Linked DNA regions of Homo sapiens: region 1 is linked to region 2. Evidence: fine-mapped expression QTL. Tissue or cell type: monocytes. Region 2 holds a variant in brackets; the other region holds the start of a gene. All regions are shown on one strand. Distances are from middle to middle.

The links. PIP is the estimated chance that this variant, and not a neighbour inherited with it, causes the effect.
Region 1: ISCU starts here. The variant in region 2 is fine-mapped to the expression of ISCU in monocytes (TOPMed, PIP above 0.99).

The regions. Positions count from the first base shown.
Region 1 is chr12:108,558,483-108,566,583 of GRCh38, forward strand. It overlaps ISCU (iron-sulfur cluster assembly enzyme), which reads left to right and starts at 4,114. Exons shown (of 5, transcript NM_213595.4): 1 at 4,114-4,254; 2 at 5,797-5,910; 3 at 6,839-6,949. The coding sequence starts at 4,141. SART3 (spliceosome associated factor 3, U4/U6 recycling protein) reads right to left here and starts at 2,691. Exons shown (of 19, transcript NM_014706.4): 1 at 2,361-2,691. The coding sequence starts at 2,672. RefSeq lists enhancers at 2,770-2,829, 2,840-2,939, 3,794-3,853, 3,924-4,003, 4,534-4,603 and 1 more and silencers at 4,214-4,333, 5,294-5,343.
Region 2 is chr12:108,506,302-108,514,405 of GRCh38, forward strand. No RefSeq gene overlaps it. Among named protein-coding and RNA genes, the nearest start is that of FICD, 4.9 kb to the right of the region's middle. RefSeq lists a silencer at 6,766-6,951. The variant T/C (reference allele first, on the strand shown) is at 4,012.

The sequences.
Region 1 (8,101 bases), 52 kb after region 2:
CAGAGTACTAGTGGCCAGAGACCTCTGCTCTCCCCTTTCTTGCTCTTTAGCAAGCTGTGTACCCTCACCAAGGACTTAACCTCTCTGGTCCCAAACCTCTCTTTCCCCACCTCACAGAATAGGCTCATCGAAAGGCCCAGGACTAGCAGTCTGAAGAAATGACATCAACAAGGGCAGGGACACAGTCAATCTGGTACCCAGTGTCACGCTGTGTTTGCTGAATGAGTAAGACTAAATTAGCTTCAGCACACTTATTTATAAAAAGTAGAGGGCAGGCGCGGTGGCTCACGCCTGTAATCCCAGCACTTTGGGAGGCCGAGGCGGGCGGATCACGAGGTCAGGAGATCGAGACCATCCTGGCTAAAACGGTGAAACCCCATCTCTACTAAAAATAGTAAAAATTAGCCGGACTTGGTGGCGGGCGCCTGTAGTCCCAGCTACTCGGGGGGCTGAGGCAGGAGAATGGCATGAACCCGGGAGGCGGAGCTTGCAGTGAGCCGAGATCGTGCCACTGCACTCCAGCCTGGGCCACAGAGCAAGACTCCGTCTCAAAAAAGAAAAAAAAAAAAAAAAAAAAAAGTAGAAATGCTAACCACCTGCCAACCCCAACAGGTTCCTCTGACAATCAGATGTAATGGGTGGGACAAGCTATACCAATGGATGACATCACTATCTCATAACAAAAATATCAGTGCCAGAGAGAGTATTATAAGGAAACTGACACTCAGTAAGGTTTAATGAGTAAACTAGATTAGCAACTTCACATTCACTGAGTGATTTCACATCCAGTGTGGCATCTAGTCCACATTTTAAGTGTAAATCCCACTATGAATAACTTAAAGGAAATCATTTCATCATTTGTTCTGAACCTCTGTTTCTTCATCTGTAAAAAGAGAATGCGGGCCGGGCGTAGCGGCTCACACCTGTAATCTCAGCACTACGGGAGGCCAAGGTGGGTGGATCACCTGAGGTCAGGAATTCAAGAGCAGCCTGACCAACATGGTGAAACCCCGTCTCTACTAAAAATACAGAAATCAGCCGGGCGCAATGGTGCGTGCCTGGATCCCAGCTACTGGGGAGGCTGAGGCAGGAGAATCGCTTGAACCAGGGCGGCAGAGGTTGCAGTGACACGAGATGGTGCCATTGCACTCCAGTCTGGGTGACAGGGCGAGACTCTGTCTCAAAAAAAAAAAAAAAAAAAAAAAGAGAGAATGTGCTCCATCTCTTCTGTTTGCCCCCTCCAAAAAACACCCTACCCTCTCCTCCCTGCCCTGTGTCCCCGAGTATAGACCTCATGCACAGGTTTCCTGGCTCTCCAGCTTCCAGATGGGTCTGCCCAGCAGGAGGCACCAGCAGAAGTTTGGTGGGAGGAAGAAAGAGAGGTCAGGGTATTTCTTCCCCCACCTCAATCCTTGACAGGAAACTGGGGCTGCTTCCCTTGAACAAAGTTATCAGCAGGTCTCAGGTGCCCTCTCCACACAATTCAGATCACACCCTTCACCCCTTCCGGCCCAAAGATGGACACCAGGTTCTGGAGTTACCAGCTATGGGATACTAAACCTTCACTCCCGATTTCCCTACCCACACCTTTATTGAGTTTCTCTCAGATCATCCTAATTTAAATGTGCCACCTATTTCCTGCTGAGATCCTGGATTATACAGTAGATATCACCACCTCATAAGGTTACAAGTGAGAGACCATGTTATGACTAGATGCTAGGCACTGAGCTATAGTTACTGTTACAACAATTATATTATGCAGAAATTGTTGCTCCCAATCTGCAGATAAGGAAGTCGAGAGGGTGAGAGAAATTAAGAAATTCTTACAAGCACATACAAGAGTTGAACAGCTAGAACTGAGGCCTTAACCTCCAGAACCAGAAACCTTTCCATTTCTATTATCACCATCGCGGTCAATATTTTTCTTACCACAAGTTTCATCATCGCCGTCATTCCTACATAACAAAATAACACTCTCTTGCGAATGAGTTTATTTCTACTGTTGGACGTGTGGTTAAGAGTGGGAGTTCTGGAATGGGATCAAAGTACAAGGCCTGACTTGCAGGAAGTGTTATCTTGAGCAAGAAACTTTCCTCCACGAGCCTCAGTTTCCTCCAGTAAAATGGGGATAGATAACAGGGCTTCCTTCACAGGGTCGTGGCGAGGATTCAATGAGATAACGTTTGCAAGGCAATGGGCAGGCAGTAAGCACTCAAATCCGACAGGAGCTACTGTCACGAAAAGCGGGTTTGCAGCCTTGGCGGCTTTATCGCCGCCGAGGACTAGGGAGGCGGGCCAGGACATGGGGACCCGAGGACCTGAAAGACTGGAAGATGCCCGCTGCCCACCCCCGGGCCCACCTGCTCCTCCAGTCTCTCAATCTCCAGCTGGTTTTTCTCCTCCTCTTCGTCATATTCCCACTCGTACTCCCCGGGGGAGCTCTCCGCGGAGGAAGCCATGGCGTACTCATCCCCATCGCTCTCGCTCACGCCTTCCTCCTGCTGATCCCACGCTGGCCCCATGGTCTTGTATGTCGCAGCGGCCACAGCCCGCGATAACACCTTCCTCCTTGTCCTAGCCGCCTTAACCTCATCCTCCTCTCCGTCAGCCTTGGGCCCAGCCTTGGACTCAGCCTCGGGTTCTGAAGCCGAGGTTTCGGCCGCAGTCGCCATCTTGCGCTTCTAATGACTCTCGGGTCTTCCCGCGGCCGCCGAAGACCCGCTGAGGCAGAAGCTGCCCGCGGCGCGCGCCTTATCAAAAACCCGTTTTCTTGCCATTGAAAGAGAAACTGGGAACTTAGATAACAGGAAAATCTCCACATACACTAAATTCACATTATTTTATACCCTGTAAAAGCTCCCACCAGATATAAAAACTCATTATAATGGCATGCGTTCCGTCACAACTTCGGACAGAAGTTGGGTCTTTGGGCAGGAAGTGGAAGCCATAGAGGAAGTCATGGAGCGAGAGTGATGTCTGTAGTGAAGAATTTGGCGCCATCTTGAGAAGGTCAAAGTGATTCTTCGATTAAATGCCTTACTTATCGCCTAGTGTGACCTGGCGCTTGGGTTTACTCTCCCCAGCAACTGCGCCTCAAACGCAAAGAAAACTGCAGGTCCTCGGGGAAGGATCGATTTCACCATTCAAGAGAAAAATCCATTTCCCAGATTCCTCCCCTTTATGTAAACGTCTGGTACCTAGTAGACGTTAAATACACGTGAGTTTTCCGGTTTTATAAGATCACATACTGCAAACCAACAGTAAATTACATTAATACGCATTTCTTTAGAAATTCTTAATTGCTAGGCACTGACATATAAATTGAGTTTGCTGTTGTTTTAGAGAGAAAAATAGACATATTCATTTTTTTTCAATCAGGACATGGTATTCGTTTCCTTCTTAAGCTTCCCATTTTTGAGGTAGGAAAGTATTGGTGTGTGTCTCTATCTCTACCTTGCTCCCTCATTAGCAGGCTTAATGGGCAGGAATTATGTCTGTTTTGCTTTCCGTTGGATCCCCGGGTCTAGTAGAGCGCCTTGACACATAGTAGGTACTCGACACAGATGCTGGCTTCATGATGAAGCAATTGTCCTCGAATTAATACAAAAGGGAAGATTCAGACTCAGCGAGCCGGTACCATTCGTCTAGGGACACACAGCCAGGAAGGAACCGAACCAGGATTCTAACCCAGGATTACCCAAGTTCGAATTCTAATTGAACATAAGTCCTTAGCGACCTTGGACGGACTTACTAAACTGCCCTGAATCTCGGCTTCCTTAGCTGCAAAATAGGGTTAGGAAAAGTGGACTCGGTGCTCCTCTGCGCCGCATTCCCGCAGCGGGATTTGTGAAAGCGAACTTGAGCCCCACACTGCAGAAGCCCTGAGGTCCTGTCTCAACCAGAATCCAGCACCCAGGACAAGCCCTCCAGCGACTTCAGACCTTCCCGCTCCCGACCCCGCCCGCCCCCGAGAGGCGTGGTCAAGGCGGGGCCAGAAGGCGGACGCGTGCACGGAGCGGTAAAGCGCAGGCGCAAAGCTTCGGTGACGTCAGAGAGGCGCGCTCCCAGCTCGGAGCCGACTCGCAGACGCGCCCCGCCCCTCGGCGTCGCTCTGGACTGGCGCAGGCGCAAGCCGGCAAGATGGCGGCGGCTGGGGCTTTCCGTCTGAGGCGGGCGGCATCGGCTCTGCTGCTGCGGAGCCCCCGCCTGCCCGCCCGGGAGCTGTCGGCCCCGGCCCGACTCTATCACAAGAAGGTAGGGACAAAAGAGGGACGCGCGGAATGCCGACTCAGCGGAGGCCTGGGCTGGAGGGGCGGCCGCGGGGTTCTGCGCAGCTAGGACTGGGAGCTGTCCCCTCCCACGTCTTTGCCCTGACTCGCTTTCCCTTGCTGCGCAGTGAGGCTCACTGCAACTGATAAACAACAGTTACCGCTCATCGGGCGGCGACTTCCAGGGGGCCCCGCCGCTGGCCGCGACTTCGTGCGTCCCAATTTTAAATTCGCCAACAGCCCAGGAGGCAGGGTCCTGTTGGGACTTGTCTTTCTGAGTCCAGGGACAGACACACCCCCGGAGCGGGCTCCGGCTTCAGCCACTCCGCTGCCCTGGCCAGATGACCTTGGGCTAGTCACTGCGCCTCTCTGAACCTGTTTCCCCAGGTGTAAATGGGGGGCTCTCAGCTGTCCCTTACAAAGGATACTGTGCGTGGAGTCCTGGCATGGTTCCTGGCACATAGGCCCCAGCACGAGGAGACCGTTTCTGTTACTGCTTTAGGAGTGCATAGGGGAGTCAGGCTTGTAACCAACATGCGTAATGTTTTTGTTTTGTTTGGGGGGTTTTTTGGCGGGGAAGGAGGGATAGATTCATAGTCTGCAGCCCCTTGCTGTCTGGTGGCACAAAGTCCCCCAGACGTGAGACTCCCACTCGAGAAACAACTAAAGAATGCCATAAATCAACGTGGCACAAAAGGCCCCTACATTAGATACTATCCTGAGGTCCCTTTTACTTGGAGTCAAAATCCTTAGTCAGATGGGGGGAAAAGGGGACTGGAAGATCGGCGTGCTTACTACTAACCAGTAACCAAACCTCAAGGTTATTAAGGCCTTCTGTGTGCCAGTTCGAATGGATGTTTATTGTGATCTGGCTTCTGCCCTTTCTCCAAGGGCTTCTTCACTCCTCCCCCTCCCGGGGGTGTGTTTTGTTGAGGGTACACCCTGAAGAAACTTGGACTAGCAGCCTTTCAGCAGCCAGGGTGCGCTGCTGCACCAGGGTGATGACAGGCTGTGAAATACGGTAATGGCACTGTTTTTATTTTAAAAGACACATAAACGTACACATTCCATAGCATTGTTCCCTGTGTAACAGTCACCTTAAGGCTTCTAAGAAAGCTTTCCCTCCCTGGGCCATGGTTATTTTTAGAATTTTTAAATAGTAATCATCCTTTGAGGATGGATTTTATTTGAAAATAACAAAACTGCTGTTTGAGCCCAAGTCTGGTGATGTAGGTGGGTGAAAGTCAAGTATTTTTGTAAAAATCCTATGGAACTAAGACATGATTTCACTGATTTTTTTTTCTTCTAGGTATCTCAAATCTGTGAAGTATTGTAGAGGAGACACAAAAGGAATTGGGGGTCACAAATGGTTCTCATTGACATGAGTGTAGACCTTTCTACTCAGGTGAAATTTGGTATTTAGTGATTGCCTGCCAGGTTCAAGATGCTGACCGAGGAGCTTACCATCAAACCAGAGACCAGTACCAATAGAGAGTGAACATGATTTATCTTAACCCTCTCATTTTAGGTTGTTGATCATTATGAAAATCCTAGAAACGTGGGGTCCCTTGACAAGACATCTAAAAATGTTGGAACTGGACTGGTGGGGGCTCCAGCATGTGGTGACGTAATGAAATTACAGGTATGGCTAGTCTTTTTTAATAGTGATAACAATAATCCCTTTAAGTTTACAAAGCACTTGCGCATTTCACTTGGTCTCCATCTTTATTCCTGTGAGATCTCCAAGCATTTCACTTGGTCTCCATTCCTGTGAGATGGGATGAGTCCATGTTAGATATGACTGGAGCAGGGCCTCAATCGTAGCTCTCCTGCTAGGCTAGTGTACTATGCCAACTTTTTCCAAAATAGAAAAGTAATCTCATTTTTGTACTCACTGTATCAGTTTAAATTCTGACTTCAGCCAACTAAAGAGTTTTGTGAATTTTACTGATCAAAGGAAAATCCCAGTGAGCTAGCAGTCCCCAATGAAACAAGAAACACAGTAAATTAAACCTGTCCCCAGATTGGGGGAAACATGAAAATAGTGTCTAGTGCTTTGGGTAAACTGTAGTTGTAGCACCAATCTGCTGCTTCATGGTGAGTGGGCAGCTTGCCAGAGGTCTTCATACCTATCTTGGAATACAGAAACAAAACAGGAGGAAACCACTAAGTGTAATCTGCTGCCCAAGAAAAAAGTATTAACCAGAGACCTTTATTGTGGACTCTGTCAGTGTTTAAAGAGGCCAGATTGCCCCAGCAGCTGTGAGCAGACTTCCACAAATAGAAGTTCATAGCCAAAATGCAGGCCAGAGTCACAAAACAAAAGAATATTGGAGTGGAGGGACATATTTTTCAGCTGATCTTTGTCAGTTGGGCCTGGATAGTTGTCCCTGCATTTCACTTTTCATCACTGAGCTCTTTGAAACAAGGCAAAGTCAGTAATTAATGCCATCACTTAGTGTGGAAAGCAAGCCCAAAGCCCTTGGGGAAGGCCCTGGTGAACCTTCGTGAGTGCCAGGTTCCAGAGGGTGGTCCCAGGACTCACCACTTAACTCTTGTCTCTTTTCTAGATTCAAGTGGATGAAAAGGGGAAGATTGTGGATGCTAGGTTTAAAACATTTGGCTGTGGTTCCGCAATTGCCTCCAGCTCATTAGCCACTGAATGGGTGAAAGGAAAGACGGTAAGGTGGCTCACAAATCTAATGGGTCAAAAACAAGTAACCATGACTTTTTTTTAATATTCTAAATTTTTAAAATTTCTCCTATGCAGATGTTGATTATATTATCATTTCTTCAAATTGGGAATTATGGATCATTCTACTAGGTGTTGTTTGGGTTTTTTTCTTGTTGATCATTTTTATTTTTTTGTTTGTTTGGGTGTTAATTACATATAAAAAAGATCCTCACCTGTCCCTCTAACAAAATAGAATTTAAAAGAAATCTTTGGCTTTCTCTAAGGTTACCAGTGCTCTTATAATTTCTCAAGTCAGAGAGTTGTTATAAGGTAGTTATTTTCTTGTTTATTTCCTCTCATGTTTCAGGAAGGGTTCTAGGTGGCTTTCAAGAATTGGTGAAATAAACTAGCCTGTGTTAAAAGAGGGATTAAATAATCAAAAAGACAGCAAGGGTGGGGGCAAAGTGAACAACGAAATCAGAACAGTGATCCAGGTGGCTGATCGCAAGCCCTCTAAAGGCAGAGATAATAAAGAGCTAGAACTTCTTTTTCATCCCTTTGTCTCCCAAGTGTCTTTCCCTGGTAGCTGCAGAGGTCAAAGGTCCCAAACACAGTGAAGAGCTGGACTTTCTAAAATCCAGTTGCTGTCAAAACCTCTCAGAAAAGCCAACCAGCAAGGCACTCATCTTTGCTGCCCCAAGGGACCAGGTTCAGGGAGCTGAGTCACAGAGGAGCATGCTTGGAAGCTGGCCAGCTCCACAGCAGAGCAGTTTGCCAGGCCACGTGCCACCTGCTTCCTGTGGCTCACGGCCTTCTGGCTGGCAAGCCCCTGTGGGCCAGGAAGCTCAGACCTAACCTGCTGTGGCAGGAGGTAGCTCTGAAGTGATTTGTCAGGAACTGTCCTCAGGTGAAGGGAGAAATGAGACAAGGCACTTTTGCTCCCAGAACCTGGCCCTTAGGGGACTGTGAATTGTGATCAGAAAATGGGAGAGAGGACATTTCTTTAACCTTGAGATCTCCCATCTGAGTTTCAGGAGCAGAACCTGAATCAACCAAGAAGGGTTAGCAGAATTGGGAAACTGAATGATAGACATAGTCAAAGAGTCTGGCTGTTGGGAAATCTGGTTTTCTGTAAGGCAGTGGGGCACTGTTCTACATG
Region 2 (8,104 bases):
TAAAAACAAAAACTTGATTATCTGCAAAGACTCTGTTTCCCAATAAAGTCTCACTCACGGATCTTGGGGTTAGGACTTCAACATATTTTGAGAGGCACAGTTCAACCCATAACACATATTTGCACATAATAGAGTGCTTAAGAGCTCCAGATCCCCCTTAATCAGACCAAATCCCAGCTCCACCACTTATAGGCTGATGGCCTGTGACAAGTCATTTCACATCTCTGGGCTTCGGTTTCCTCATCTGTAAAATGGGTCTCATAACTCTACCTACTTTGTGGGGCATCAAAGGATTCAACAAAATCATGTATTTGTTCAATCAATGTTGATAATACTCCTGTGGCCTGCCAGCCTTAGGCAAGCTGTAAACAAAAGACAAATCCCTGCCCCTGTGGAGCTTATTAAGAACAAAGGGGCTGCAGAGCCACTTTATATTTTAAAAAATAGGCCAGGGGCAGTGGCTCATGCCTGTAATCCCAAAGCTTTGGGAGGCTGAGGCAGGAGGATCGCTTCAGGCCAGGAGTTTGAGTCCAGCCTGGACAACATGGTGAAACCCTGTCTCTAACAAAAATACAAAAAGTTAGCTGGGCATGGTGGCACATGCCTGTAGTCCCAGCTACTCGGGATGCAGAGGCAGGAGAATCGTGTGAGCCCAGGAGGCGGAGGTTGCAGGGAGCCGAGATTGCAGCACTGCACTCCAGCCTAGGAGACAGAGTGAGACCCCATCTCAAAATAAATAAATAAATAAATAAATAAATAAATAAACAAACAAGTAAAATATCTAGGCTAGCAGAGGGCGAAGAGTGAGATTATTTCTATGTGCATCATTTATGGCTGAAAAATAGAAAAATGACGCAAGTGATAGCCTCAGCAAAACATCTGCATGAAGTAAAAGAGGTGGCTGTTTAGTGAATCCCCATAAAAAGAGAGGGGAAAAAAGGTCTGTAACAGTGAAATTATCCTAACTCAAGGGATGCTCGTAGCATGGTGCCTGGCACCTGGTGATCTTCTGCTGCTTGTGATTATAACTCTCCCAAGAAAGGAAGTCACAGGAAGCATGTCCACTGTATGCCAGTGTGAAGCCCAGCCAGCCATGCTCCCAAAGGGCCACTTTACCCACCACAGTCCCAAAGCAGCCAGGAAGGCTCAAGAAGGAACAAGGAAGGCCAGGTGGGTGGCCTTGGAGGACTCTGCTCCCTTTCATCCATCCCCAGGCTGGGGGTTAATTTTGCAGCTGCACCCCCAGCCAATGAATTGTTCTCAAAGTGCATGGAAACACTGCTGTTGGAAAAACTGTGAAGAACCATAAGAGGGCAAGAAATAAAAATGCTGAAAGAAGCCAGACCCCAAAAGCCACCATATTATAGGATTCCATTTACAGGAAACATCCAGAAGAGAAAAATCTATACAGACAGAGAGTAGATTGCCAGGGGCTGAGGGAAGGAGCTTGGGGAGAAACAGGAAATTGCTACTAAAGGGTCTTTGCTTTCTTTGGGGGTAATGAAAATGTTCTAAAATTGGGGTGATGGTTGCACAACCCTGTGAATATATTAAAAACCACAGAATGGTACACTTCAAATGGGAGAATTGTGTGGTATGTGAATTATATCTCAATAAAGCTGTCATTTAGGAAAAAAAAAAACAGTTGCCTTGGCTCTAAACTTACTTCTCCAATTCCTCTGAGAATGCCAAATCACTGCCATCTCTCTGATTAGGGCTGAATTCATTTCACAGTAATTTTTAAAAGAGTATTTTCTCAACACCTGAAATAGGCCCTTTGATGTCTGTCCAAAGCCCTCCTGGGAATTCTTATCTATTTAAAAGAGGGAATGAGTATTAAGAGCTTGGCTTTCCTAGCTAGCCAGACATCCATGTTAATTTCCACATCTCCACGTTACTATGGCAACAGAGAGCTTCCACTGAGAGCTTTTTGGGGGGCATCAAAATGGACTGCAATTTGGACTCAGGGAGTCCACAGCCCCTCTGCCCAGCAGCCCCCAGACCCTGGCTACCTTGAATCAGGTGAAACAGAGAAATCAGAGAAGGGGAGGATGTAGGCTCCACTGGGTCTTCACTCCATCCTGGCCCAAACTGAGTCACCGTCCCCATGCAGGAAGAGAAGTGTTAGTCACATCTTTCAGAGGCTGTGATCTAAAACAGCGTATTGAGCACCTGAGTCAGTCTCCATGTCAACATGACCATATTTTTAGGCAGGAGTAGGCAGCTTCTTGGGCCAATTAGAGTAGTACAGCTAGAAAGCAGTCAGTAAACAGCTGGGAGAAAAGCAGTCAGCCACTGGGAGTCCACTGTTCTCACAGAGGAGTCTCACAAATGCAGAAGCTCCCTGCCTTGAGGTACCCAAAGAGTCCACCACATAAGGCCCAGGAGGCCTGAAGTCCATCCTGTCAGGCAGAATCAATCACTGGGACAGAGAAGGGAAGAGGCAGTGCATAAGACAGGCAGCCTCAAAGATGGGCCCCACTGATCCTCATCTCCTGGTGAGCCTTATGTAGCCCCCTCATACCTTGAACCAAGATTGATCTGTGTTGTGGCCAATAGAGTACAGCGAAGGTTAAATTGTGCCTTCTGAAGCTAGATCATAAAAGACACCACACTCTTGGGTCATTCATGCTGGAGAAGCCAGCTGCCATGTTGAGAGGACACTCAAGCAGTCCTACGGGGCAGCCCACATGAGAGGAACTGAAGCCCCCAGCCACCAGCCATGTGAGCCACCTTGGAAATGGAGCCTTCAGCACCAGTCAAGCTTTCAGATGATTGCAGCCCCAAACACTATCTTGACTTCAATCTCAAGAACGTCTGCCAGCTAGAACCATCCAGCTAAACTGCTCCCAGATTACTGACCCACACAATATAATGTAAAGTAAAAAATGTTTGCTGTTGTTTTAAGCTACTAAGCATTGGGGTTATTTGTTACACAGCAATGGATAACAGACATAGGGTGGATGTCAGAAATTGTCTCGAGAAGATGACTTTATGAAGATTTTTCCTCCTCGCTCCTTCCCCTACCCTTAAAGCATTTTTACAGTAGAAGGGGACATGTTAACGGGTAGGGAATCTAGAGACTTGGATTTGTATTCTGGCTCTGTCCTTAGTTTTTCCACCTCCAAAGCTGAGGAGCTAAAATGTAACCTGAGATCTCTGAAAGCCTAGGGTCTCATAATCGTCAAAACCACAGTTTTGAGTCAGGAAGACTGGTTGTGAACCCTGGCTCTGCCACTTGCTTGCTGTGTGACCTCAGACTAATTACTTAATTTATCTGAGCCTCATTTTCACCTTCTATAAAGTGGGTTTAATAATATCTAGTTCATGGCGTTGTTACAAAAATTCAATCAAATACCATACAAATTACTTAGCACACAGTAAGTGCTCAGTTGTCACCACTACCAAAAATGAGATAGCATGGTGGGTACGATTATTTCCACTTGTAGCTAAGATACAGTAGGATCAGAGGAGCAGTTAGAGGATTTCGTTGGTCTGGAGCAAGGCCCCATGTGGTTGTTTTTCCAAAACCCCCCCAAATGATTCTTTGAGAAACTTTGTCCTAGAGAAACTTCCACACATGTGCCAAAAAATCATACAAGTATTTCACTGCAGTCTGTGATAGGGAAAAATTGGAAACAATCCAAATGCCCATCAACAGGTAAATGGGAAATAAATTGTTAATGGAATACTATACAGCACTGTAAAATTAATGAACCAGAACTATGCATATCAGCATGAGCATAAATCTCTAAGACATAATTCTGAGCCCCAAAATGCAGAAGGATCCACACGGTATATATCATGCATAAAAATCTGCATAACATCATTATATATTATTTATGGATACATGCATGTGGATAAAAGCAAAAAGCCATGCATGGAGGCAGCAGCACCAAATTCAACATGGTAGTGACCTCTGGGAGGGAGGGAAGGGCATGTGAAGGGGAGAAGGCCCATGGGGCTTCAGTGTATTGGTGACATGGTATTTCTTAAACTGGATGGCAGGTA[T/C]ACAAGCGCCCATTGCACTGTTGATGTCTTTTGGATATCAGAAATATTTCATCATTTAAAAATAGATGTGGCCAGTTGTGGCGGCTCATGCTTATAATCCCAGCACTTTGGGAGGCTGAGGTGGGAGGATTTCTTGAGCCCAGGGGTTGAAGACCAGACTGGGCAACATAGTGAAACCCCATCTCTACAAAAAAAAAAAATTGTTTAAATTAGCCAGTCATGGTGGCATGCACCTGTAGTCCCAGCTACTTGGGAGGCTGAGGCAGGAGGATCACTTAAGCCCAGGAGGTTGAGGCTGTAGTGAGCTGAGATCATGCCACTGCACTCCAGCCTGGGTGACAGAGTGAGACCCTGTGTCTACAAAAAAAAAATTTTTTTAATTAGCCAGTCGTGGTGGCACACACCTATAGTCCCAGCTACTTGGGAGGCTGAGGCAGGAGGATCATTTAAGCCCAGGAGGTTGAGGCTGCAGCGAGCCGAGATCGTGCCACTGCCCTCCAGCCTGGGTGACAGAGTGAGACCCTGTCTCAAAAATAAATAAATGTGCATAGAGAAATATGGAGTAGAATTGTGAATGTGTATTTTTTTCTTGTTTTTTGTGGATTCTATATCTGTAATGATCTCATGTTGTTTTTAAGAAATAAAATAGTTGTTCAACAGGTGAAAAGCAGTTACGTTTAATTTTTTCCAAGTAAGAAGTACCACTTCCCCAAATGATTTGCTTTGAAAACAACACTCATCTGCATGTCTGAGTTTTGAAATATTGGTGATTTGAGACCATACGACATGAGAAACATCCTGAGGCCAGAACACAAGCCTTTAGCCCAGGGACACTCACATGGGGTCCCCCAAGCCCTGTTTCTTGGGGATGCCTCAGAAACTGGGTCTGACCCCACCAGGTATGTCTTTTCTTTTTTTTTTTTTTTTTTGAGACGGAGTCTCGCTCTGTTGCCCAGGCTGGAGTGCAGTGGTGCGATCTCAGCTCACTGCAAGCTCCGCCTCCCGGGTTCACGCCATTCTCCTGCCTCAGCCTCCCGAGTAGCTCGGACTACAGGCGCCCATCACCACGCCAGGCTAATTTTTTGTATTTTTAGTAGAGACGGGGTTTCACTGTGTTAGCCTGGATGATCTCGATCGCCTGACGTCGTGATCTGCCCGCCTCGGCCTCCCAAAGTGCTGGGATTACAGGTGTGAGCCACCGCGCCTGGCCCCCACCAGGTATGTTTTAAAAGGAGGATTAATCAGTAGCAGGGAGAAGGGCTGCTGGGCTCTCTTTTTCAGCCACAGCATTAAGTTAGACAGAGAAAAAAAAATCAGGGGTGGGGAAAGATGAGAGAAATGAAGAAGCAAGAACAGGTGTGGTGTATTTTCTTTTTAATGAAGTTGAGTCATTCTGCAGCCAACTCAATGCCATGTAGCCTCAAGCCGGGGAGTTTTGTTTTTCCTAAGCAATAGAATCCGACTCTGCCAGCAAGAAGCGCTTGACTGCTGTTCCTTAAACATGCAGAAGGGTTTTTTGTCTTGTTTTGTTTTGCATAATGGACATATTTCCCATGCAGCCACTTTCTGGGTTCTTTGTCATGTGTCAAGGTAAGCGTTTAGAAAACTCCTCCGTGGGCCACGGGGAGGCAATTTTCACCTAGTACAGAATGCTTAAGATGGAGAAAGCCAACTTTTCAATATCGCTTCAGGGACCATATTTTGTGCATTCAACACAGCTGAATGCAGACAAAGTCGAGAGTTAAAATTTTTTGAGTGTAAACTCCTGACAAGGAGATTGAAGGAGGGAAGTGATGTCAGGTGAATTACTGCCCCCTGGTGGCCAGACACAGTAATGGGCTCATTTTGCTGTAATAGTCCTTTGAGTCTTTTCTTCCTGCGTTCCCCTGCCATCTTCCACTACCGGCTACAAAGGGGTTACAATCTGGCGGCCCTGGAAAGCCAGCCGGCAGCCATGCCAACTGCCTTAAAATCTGGAGATACTGCTTAAAAAATCTAGGCCTCACATTTATTTTGAAAAATTGAAAACTCTATCCACTTTTAGACTGCATCCCAGCTAATAAATACGGGTTCGAGCTGAGAAGCTGCTGCCCACTTTAGACAAGGCATGTGCTCTCAAATCTGCCATACTCCCCACCTCTACCTATTGTCTCATGGCCAGGAAGCTTTGCTCATTAGCAGTTCCTGCATAGCCTCTGGATTTACTACTCGTAGCCTAAGCTAATTAAAGACTTAACAAAGAGAGGAGGGTGCCTTTAGAAGCAGAGGACTACATTGCTTTATACCTGGGTGTGGACAGGGGTCCACTAGTCCCTTAATACCCAGCTCAGTGAGGATAAGTGACTTGTTCAAGGTCACCCAGCCAGCAAGCGGTGGGCCTTGCATTTCAACGCACATCTGTCTGACCCCAGAGCTTCACTGTTTTCTAACATACTGTCACCCATAAGCTGGCTGCCTACCAGGCCCTCCTCTGGGGAAGGTTTTTACAATGACATTACTACTTGGGCCATCAGGAAGTGCAATTCAGAGGACTCCAAGAGAAAAATGTTTATGACCTTGGTTGAAAAGATTAAAAACGAGAAGCCACCAAAATAATCACCACCCTGATTTTGTTCCTTAAAAACTATGGATCTTCTGGCCAGGCGCGGTGGCTCAAGCCTGTAATCCCAGCACTTTGGGAGGCCAAGGCAGGTGGACCACTTGAGGTCAGGAGTTGAAGACCAGCCTGGCCAACAGAATGAAACCCCGTGTCTATTAAAAATACAAAAAAATTAGCCGGGTGCAGTGGCACATGCCTGTAATCCCAGCTACTCAGGAGGCTGACGCAGGAGAATCGCTTGAACCCAGAAGGTAGAGATTGCAGTGAGCCAAGATCACACCACTGCACTCCAGCCTGGGTGACAGAGCAAGACTCTGTCTCAAAAACAAACAAACAAACAAAAAAACAATTAGCCTGTGTGTGCCTGTAGTCCCAGCTACTAGGGAAGCTGAGATGGGAGGATCACTTAAACCCAGGACATGGAGGTTGCAGTGAGCCAAGATCATGCCACTGCACTCCAGCCTGGGCAACAGAGTGAGATCCTATTTCAAAAAAGATAGATAGGTGATAGATAGATAGATAGATAGATAGATAGATAGATAGATAGATAGTTTGCTCTGTGCCAGATGTATAGAATCTCATTTCACCCTCACATAAAACCTTGTGAAGTGGTAATATCATCACACTGTGCACAGTTTACAGAAAAGCCTAGACAGATGATCAACAAGATCAAGTCACTTGCTGAATGTGATTCAGTTTGCAAGGGGCAGAACTGGGATTTGAACCCAGGTCTGTGTGACTCCCAACAGTGACACCCCACAACCACCACCTAGCCCTGCCTCCAAGAGCAATACACGTCACAGAGGAGGTCAGATCTTGAAGCATCAAGCCTTCTGCAAATCCTGAACTGGATGCCAAAAGCAAGGTAGGCTGTTTGTCCCCATTTTACAAGTGGGGAAAGTGAGGCTAGGAGTAACGTGCCCAAGGTGACACGGAGAGTAAATGGCAAAGTCTGAATTTGAGCTCAGGTCTCTTTGACTCCCCAGAATCTGAACTGCTAACTTCTAAATGCTTAGCGTTTCTGGGGCACCTCCCTAGATGTTTAATTTCAGTATTTGTGGATTAAGATGGAGGTTTCCATTCTCTGCTTCAAGGAAAAAATTTCTCTCTGGGAAGCCAAAAGAACTAGCCAGGTCCTTCTGGAGAGGATACAAATTAAAAAGTCAGGGAGAACCGAGGGGGTGGCTTGCGCCTGTAATCTTAGCGCTTTGGGAAGCCGAGATGGAGGGAGAGCTTAAGGTCAAGAGTTCGAGACCAGCCCGGGCGACATAGTGAGACCCGGTCTCTAAAGAAAATAAAAAATCAGAAATAGGTCGGGCGCGATGGCTCACGCCTGTAATCCCAGCACTTTGGGAGGCCGAGGCAGGCGAATCTTCTGAGGTCAGGAGTTCGAGACCAGCCTGGCCAACGTGGTGAAACCCCATCTCTACTAAAAATACACAAATTAGGCGGGCGTGGTGATGCGCGCCTGTAATCCCAGCTACTCGGGAGGCT